2 linked regions of the Homo sapiens genome follow. The protein of the gene in region 2 purifies or fractionates together with the protein of the main gene of each other region. This does not show direct contact. Each region holds a gene or a part of one and is shown on either strand. Other genes may lie near its edges. The genes, in order: ELAC2 and GLYATL1.

What was found.
Region 1: the proteins of GLYATL1 (region 2) and ELAC2 purify together in Homo sapiens (affinity purification with mass spectrometry; one large-scale study listed by BioGRID and IntAct). This does not show direct contact.

What each region holds. Positions count from the first base shown.
Region 1 is NC_000017.11:13,000,731-13,004,544, forward strand, and holds part of ELAC2 (zinc phosphodiesterase ELAC protein 2), read right to left. Parts: intron 2,845-3,814; coding exon 2,749-2,844; intron 1,850-2,748; coding exon 1,711-1,849; intron 1,630-1,710; coding exon 1,544-1,629; intron 1-1,543. UniProt on the Homo sapiens protein: Zinc phosphodiesterase, which displays mitochondrial tRNA 3'-processing endonuclease activity. Involved in tRNA maturation, by removing a 3'-trailer from precursor tRNA.
Region 2 is NC_000011.10:58,938,047-58,942,398, reverse strand, and holds the start of GLYATL1 (glycine N-acyltransferase-like protein 1), read right to left. Parts: upstream 2,912-4,352; 5' UTR 2,749-2,911; intron 2,241-2,748; exon of another isoform or gene 1,998-2,240; intron 1-1,997. UniProt on the Homo sapiens protein: Acyltransferase which transfers an acyl group to the N-terminus of glutamine. Can use phenylacetyl-CoA as an acyl donor.

The sequences.
Region 1 (3,814 bases), on a different chromosome or scaffold from region 2:
AGCCAGTTCGGCAGCTCTGCAGTGAGGCCTGAGATCCCACTTTCCTAGCAAGCCCCAGATCACACGGAGTGGCAACTCCTTGGACAGGCGGCTCTTCAACCTCGCTGAGCATTAAAATCATCTGGGAGCTTGTGAGTCCCAAGCCTAACTCTCAAGATTCTAATTCACTAGGTCTAGGGCAGGCCCTGTGCAATATTTTTCACAAGCACAAGGTAAATCTGAATGTCGGCTAGGGCTGTGTATCGCTGCTGTGTGTTAAGAGCCTGCGCAGATGCCAACAAAGGGACACCAGGTTCTTCAACCCCGTGATGTTGCCTGTGGGCCCGAGTCTTGCTAGTATAGTCTCTTAAAGGGCCCCAACTACCCAACCTCAACAGCACACAGCATCCAGTCATAATCCAGCACATGCTCTATTCTAATACAAATACTGTGGAGTGGGCAGGAAACTTAAAATCAAGGTTCAGATCCTTAAAAATTAAAACAGGCCGGGCACGGCTCACGCCTGTAATCCCAACACTTTGGGAGGCTGAGGTGGGTGGATCACCTGAGGTCAGGAGTTCGAGACCAGCCTGCCAACATGGTGAAACCCGTCTCTGCTAAAATTACAAAAAATTAGCCGGGCGTGGTAGCAGGCGCCTGTAATTCCAGCTATTCGGGAGGCTGGGGCAGGAGAAATGCTTGAACCCGGGAGGCGGAGGTTGCAGTGAGCTGAGATCACGCCATTGCACTCCAGCCTGGGCAACAAGAGTGAAACTCCGTCTCAAAAAAATAAATAAATAAATAAAATAAATAAATTAATTAATTAAAATAAAGATGTGGGGCAGTAAGGCTGTTCACTTTCCTGGTTGGATTGTACTGGAAGAGGCTTTCAAGATGGCATCTTACATTTATCAAGTACCTTAACAAGTCTCACACTCTGGGCCAGTAATCCCACATTTAGGAATGACTTGAAGGGAACAGAGTTCCCATCAAAGATTTATATATAAGACATTTATTGTTTCATTCATTAAAAACAACAAAAAATTGGAAACATCCCAAATGAGTAAACATCCCTATTTGGAATACCAATAAAAATCTTGTTACTTAAGACTGTTTAGTGATACAGGAAAAGACTGACAATATAAACCCACATACACAAATCAAGAAACACAAAATGTTATCAATCATTATCTCTGGGCAACAGGATTATGGGTGACTTTGTTCATCACACATTTCCTATTTTCTATACTGTGAAACACACGAGCTCTATCACTGCTATTCCCATGCAAGGCAATTTTGGAAAAGGAGAACTACTGGCCCCAATCCGCCCACCTCAACCCAGCCTGGAGTAGGCTGCTTTTCTAAATAAATTCACGCTGGCACACAGCCAAGCCCATTCATTAGCTTATTGTCCGTGTTTCTTTTGTGCTCAAAGCGGAGTTGAATAGTTACAACAGAGACCATATGGTCTGGAGAGCCTCCTGGAACATTTACTATGTGGCTATTTACAGAAATGTTTCCCAACTCGACTGAGACGATTCCATTAGTTCAAGATGGCACAGACCTCTGCCACTCCCTCCTGGGACGGAGCTGGTACTTGAGGAGGCATTCACCCTGAACCATGGGCACACTGAGGGTGGGGCCCTCCTTCTGAAAGAGACAAAACACATTCATGGAGAGAAAGAGAGGGGACGAGAGCTGGGCCGACAAGGGGCCGGTCTGAGACACTACCTTACAGCGGAAACTGGTGAGCAGGGGGAAGATGTCCGGGTGGATGAGGTTGAGCTGGGTTTGAATCTTGTGGCTGCGAAGGTTGTGAACTGAGGCACAGTTCTCATTCAGGACCAAGTGCTGGGTGTCAGGCCCAAACCTGTGAAGAAACAGACCCGGCATTTGCAGCGTCTGTTAGGAGGCAGCTCCCCCTGAGGAGTGGTGCTGAGCTCAGGAGTGGTAATGAGGATGAGGTGTTCAAACAGTTCAGTGACTTGCCCCAAGCAGTGTTACTACATGGCCAAACATGGTCCCACTCCTGCTGTCTCAAAGCCCGGTGTTCCCTAGCTCAGCTGCCTTTCAGGTGTGCTGGGAAGAGTGAGAGGAAAAACAAGAAAAAGAAGATGTCCAGGGCATACAAATAGGGGACCCAAACCCTGAGGAATGAAAGAGACAGCAGGAGAGCAGGCCATGGAGTGAGGGGCAGGTAAACGGGCCATGTGGGGAGATACGGGCAGGGGCCAAAAAGCAGCCCAAGGTCACCCCGCACCCGAGCTCAACTCATACTCCTCCACCTGGCCCTGGCCAGCGATGCCCCGAGGAAAAAGATGCCTTCCAGTGACTAAACATCTACCTCCCAGGGCTGCTGGCGACGACCCTAGAGGAAATGAAGTGAAATGAAGGGTATTTCACACACTGCCTCCCACAAAGTGGGCATTCAGTAAATGGAAGCTATCATTTTATAGCTGCAATCTCTTCTTTGGAATTCACTTATGGAATCCTCAACCAAACGGCAGTATTTGTTCAGACACCCTGAAGAGTGTGGAGGGTGTAAAATAAATGGAATCGTGTGGACACTGCGCCACCTAGCGGTGCATTTTCTTCACGAGTGTAGCACAGATCTGGGAAGCCTAGAATTCTGGGAAGGCAGGAATCCCACAGAAAGTTTAGGCAGGTGCAGAAGGGTAGGTAGCGCTGGAAAGAGCACGAGGGGAGGAAAGGGGAATCCACCACTGCCCAGAAGAGTTACCCCAAGTGCCGCTGGGCTGGGCTCCATACCTCTCCATCCACTGCTGGTACCTGCTGTCCACAAGCACAGATGCTGGGGCCATGTGAACCACCAAGGCCACGGGGGCATCTGCCTTTCCTTGGTACCTGGGCAGAAGAGTGGGGCTTTACAAAGTGATGCAGACTCAGGACACACCAAGACAGGGACCACGCAGCCAGGGAGGGGTATCGTGCGGCCCTCTGCAGCACTGCAGTGAGCTGACAGCCTCCACGCCCAGGCCATGCTCTCACAGCAGGCTGCTCACGGCAGACCCCGGTGCTGGGCCATTTCCAATGGACGTGGGATTCCTGTATCTGGCAAGCTCTGCTCTGGGCTTTCCAGTAGGCCTGGCTGATCCTTTCTCAGCACTGCACTTCCTTCCTACCCTCTCCACTCATACGGGTCCAACCTGCAAAGCCAGACCCAGGCTCTCCCTGCCTCCTCCTGCTCCCTCTCTCCTTCCTCTCTCACAGTCAAATTTCCTCGAATAAACCTCCTGCACCTCCAATGCCACCCTGGTGTCTGCCTTCCAGAGGACCTGAGACACAGGCACGAGAAATGAAAATCATCTGAAATTTCACCACCTGGACAACAGACCACTTACTAACATGCTGATGTGTTTCCCTCCAGTTCCCTTTAAAAAGAAATATACACAGTAGCTATTTTTATCTATCCCAGCATCATCACACATCCACACATGGCTCTCAAATGACACCTGATTCATTGAAGAGGTTTTGCTGCCCAAAACTGGATTAAAATACAAAGCCGGGGCTACCAGCGCATCCAAATTCACCCACAGAGAATAAAGCAGACCATGAAACAACTCCTAACGCTCTGACTCGGAAGGGGTACAGCAGCCCAAAAGGATTTGTTGTGGTAAGTAGAAAAAAACAAGTGAAAAAATACAGATAGATACAAACTAGGAACAGGAAAAATACAGGTAAACCATTAAGAGTGGGGGAAAAGATTCAAACTCAGATAGGTGGGTCAAAGATGATTCCATCTGGAATGAAAGCTGAACCGCAAAACTGGTTAACTTCGATAGAGGACAACAACAGAGTGGCAGTTAGCCCAAAA
Region 2 (4,352 bases):
AGAGACATTGACAGCCTTTTCTCCTGACTATCTTTTCAAGGATGTTTCTAAAGAGGACAGCTTGGAAGCTAGAGATATTGCTTTCTTCTGAAGCAGAGGGTAGGTCTGCTTACTGATCAGTATAAGAAAGATAATGTCCCCCTCTGGAGCAAAGTTCAGACAGGTTTGCTTGCAGTTCATTATAAAACATCCAGGTGACCTAAATTCAGGGTTCCTTGGCTTCAACACACATCTGTTGCACTTGCAACATTAATCTGCCTTTCTGTATTTCCTCTGTAGGACTTGTGGAGCAAGGATGACTGACACAAACACAAAAATCATTCTCCCTGTTGAATGAGTCATAAAACTCTGTCTTTGACCCAGAAAGCTTGTGTTATCTGTCAGCATTCATGAAACATTGCCCCAAGTAGGGTAAACTTTTATATGCTTCACAGTTCTTAGCAGTCTTTTCTGGATGGAGAATGCCTTTAGTCTTCCGTCAATAACAAATGAGGATGCTCCTTTTAAAACAAAAGCCAGATTTTGTCATGTCTTTGTGCAACTCCTGCAGCAACTCCCAATCTCATTTAGAGAAAGAGGTACAAATTGTTTATAACAGTTCTCTAAGTTAGACTCCAGTCACCTCCCTGACATCTGTCCAGTCAGGTCCTAGACCTCACTCTCTTTGGCCTCTCTGCTTCAGGCACTTGGCTGTTCTTTTTCTTCTGCCTGCATTCTGTTTTCTTATTAGACCTATAAAAACTCTATTACCTTCTTTAAGTCTTCACCTAAAAGCCACCTGCTCAATAAGGCCTCCTTTGGCCATCCTATTAAAAATTACTACTCCTCCCCTTTGGGTATATACCCAGTAATGGGATGGCTATAAATCATGCTGCTATAAAGACACATGCACACGTATGTTTATTGCGGCACTATTCACAATAGCAAAGACTTGGAACCAACCCAAATGTCCAGAAATGATAGACTGGATTAAGAAAATGTGGCACATATATACACCATGGAATACTATGCAGCCATAAAAAATGACGAGTTCATGTCCTTTGTAGGGACATGGATGAAACTAGAAATCATCATTCTCAGTAAACTATCACAAGGACAAAAAACCAAACACCGCATGTTCTCACTCATAGATGGGAATTGAACAATGAGAACACGTGGACACAGGAAGGGGAACATCACACTCTGGGGACTGTTGTGGGGTGGGGGGAGGGGGGAGGGATAGCATTAGGAGATATACCTAATGCTAAATGACGAGTTAATGGGTGCAGCACACCAGCATGGCACATGTATACATATGTAACTAACCTGCACATTGTGCACATGTACCCTAAAACTTAAAGTGTAATAATAATAAAAAAAATTACTACTCCTCCCCTAGTCTCCCTGCAATGCTTCTGTGCCCCATTGTCATTCTCTGCCTCTATTTGTCTTTTTGACAGGGTCTCGCTCTTTCACCTAGGTTGGAGTGCAGTGGCTGAATCAAGACTCACTGAAGCCTTGATCATTCAGGCTCAAGCAATCCTCCAATCTCAGTCTCCTGAGTAGCTGGAACTACAAGCATGAATCACTGTGCTTGGCTAATTGTTTAATTTTTATTTTATAGAGATGGGGGAGGGGGTCTCTGTTTCCCAGGCTTATCTCCAACTCCTGGTGACAACTTTATAAACTTCTGTGCCAAACTCTCATACCTCAAAATATCTAGCAGAAACAAATACAAAACCCAGACAAAAATGTATGCTGACAACTATGATGACATTTCTAGTTTTATTTTACAAAATTTTAATGCTAGCTTGCTAAAGATTTACTTAAGTAGCATGAACATGAAAAATACTTTGGACTTGTTTACTTAATCTATGAGCACTCTTTTATTTATAATCCAATTGGGTAGTCACAACATTTAACGTAATACATATGCCTACACATTAACACATCTAGACATACATACACCCAAAGACACATCTAGACATACATACACCCAAAGATCCAATAGCTTTTACCTTGGAACTCTAGCTATTGAAATAGAAACTCATCAGTCTGCAAACATGTTCACATGGCTGAACTTTGTTAGCCTTGATAGGTAATCCAGTGAAGGCTGTGAACCAAAATTTTCAGTAAAACAGTTTCCGTGGCAGTTTAATTTTTAAAGTCCAAAGTTCTCCAGACTCCAAAGAACACTGGGGTCAAACAGCACCACAGGAGAATATCACATACTAACTTGGCCCAACAGCAGCAGCACAAAAGCCTGGATACATGGAACTCCAACCCACTTTCCCATTCAAGGGCAAATACCAGATTCCAAACTATACTGGGGTCAAACAGTGTTACAAAAGAGTGTCAGTTTATTAAATTCTGATTTCTGATGACTATATCAGACACTTGCAAACAATCACTAAAACAATCCAACTGTTGCAGCATCAAACAAGCCCCAAAAGTCTACAAACTGAAACAGTTGGGGTGATTCCTCTCTCCATTGGTTGGGCTCAATCAACCTGCAAATCAAAATTCCTTCAGAATTTCTCAAATGGAGAGGAGCTGATCCCACTATCTAGTACCCACAAAAGACACTCACTTGCCTGGACACACACACAATGACAAACAAGCCCCCAAGAATGTCCATACTGAAACAGTCAGGGTATTTTCCTCTCTTCGTCAGTTGGGCTTATTCAACCCGCAAGTGGAAATTCCTTTAAAAATTTCCCAAACTGAGAGGAGCAGATCTTTCTGTCTGGGCCCACAAAGGACAGTCACCTATCTGGATGCCGATGTGAAATTCCAAAGGCAGTTCTTCCAAGGCAATCAGGACCATGGTTGGGGCCAGCTGTGGTGGCCCCAGAGGGTACTTATCTCTCCAGCCAAAATTGGGTAAGCAGCTGCTTAGTAGTTCTGTGAGACTCCTGGCCCATGGCAACTGAGCCAAAGTGTTCCTGGTCGGGAAACCAAAAGCTGTTACTGAAACACCAGGGGTGTGGTCTAGGTCCTGCAGCTCACCACACAGAAAGCCAATCAATATAACCAATTGCCAAGGAAGAAGGCTGAGTTGGATGCTGTAGCAGAGGAGATGCAAGCTCGGTCTCAAATCCGTCTTGCTGATCAACTAAAATTATGAGTTTTCATAGCAGTGAAGAAATGTAACAATGTGTAGAAAAACAGGAACTCAGGCGACCTAAGGAAGCAATCATAATTTATGAGGGGTCTGGTGTCCCATTGTCTGGATGGGATCATCTGGTGAGTTTCAATTCTTTGATACTTTTTGAGGGACGTAGGGGTCCTTTACTAAGGATGAAATTCATATAAAACAAATAAAAGTTTCAAGCATTAAGATCAGAAGGGTCAATTTCTATGTTTATACAAAAAAAATTCTCTATGGGACTACAGGGGAGGTTTCAATTCCACTGCCAGTGCTAGCTCCAGTCGGCCTCAAGTCTGCCTATGATTCTGGCAAACTGAATCAGGACCTTGGCCAGGAGAATAGCTTCCTCTCCCATCTCTGGGCTCCTCACCTATCTGTAGGGCTGCTGAGCTTGCCAGTTTCTTATAACACTTCAGTTCCAGAGCAGACTCCTTTGCATCAGCCTTTCAGACCAGCTCTGGAGTCTCTCTAGAACTCAGCACGTGCATATGGGGTGCAGAGGGATACGGCTGGAACTAGACCCCTGTGCTTTCCTCTCAGAAACACATGCTATCTGACAGAGTGGTTACTCTCTAGGACTCCAGCAGGGGATTCTCCAAGTCCACTTCTCTGATGTATCTACTCTGTGGATCAAAACTCAAAGGTTTAGCCTTATGTGTCACAACCTCAGGGCTCTCCGGGCCTAGCTTAGTTCTGATATCAGTCCCATTGTACTCAGTATTAGTCATAAGTGACTTCATGAAACACTCGTGGCAGCTTGGATTCTGACATGAACATGGGATCTCTGAATGGAAGCAATGAATTCTGGTTTCACAGGTGCTGAGGTTATGCTCATCTGCTTTGGGCTTTTCAGGCTGTGTGAGAGATCTCTGATTCTAGGTCTCTCCAGCTGGCTACCCCTGAATGTTCTTCCATCTTTGGGACTTTGCAGGTCCATCATGGGGTCATGGTGGAAGAGACAACTAGGATACCATTTAGGCATGGCCCCACTTTCAAAAAAGTTCCCAAATTTGAGATTCTAGTGTTATCACCCAATGGTACAGAAACACAGACAGAATGGAGAACACATGCACCATAAATTACACACTGCCAAGAGTCCACTCTGAATTAATGCTTTATAATTCCTGCACTGATCTTGTAAGTAGAACAATAATATTGCATGGCATTTTTGAGGTTGTAAGCATACATTTATACACATTTAAAGCTATTATATTATCAATGT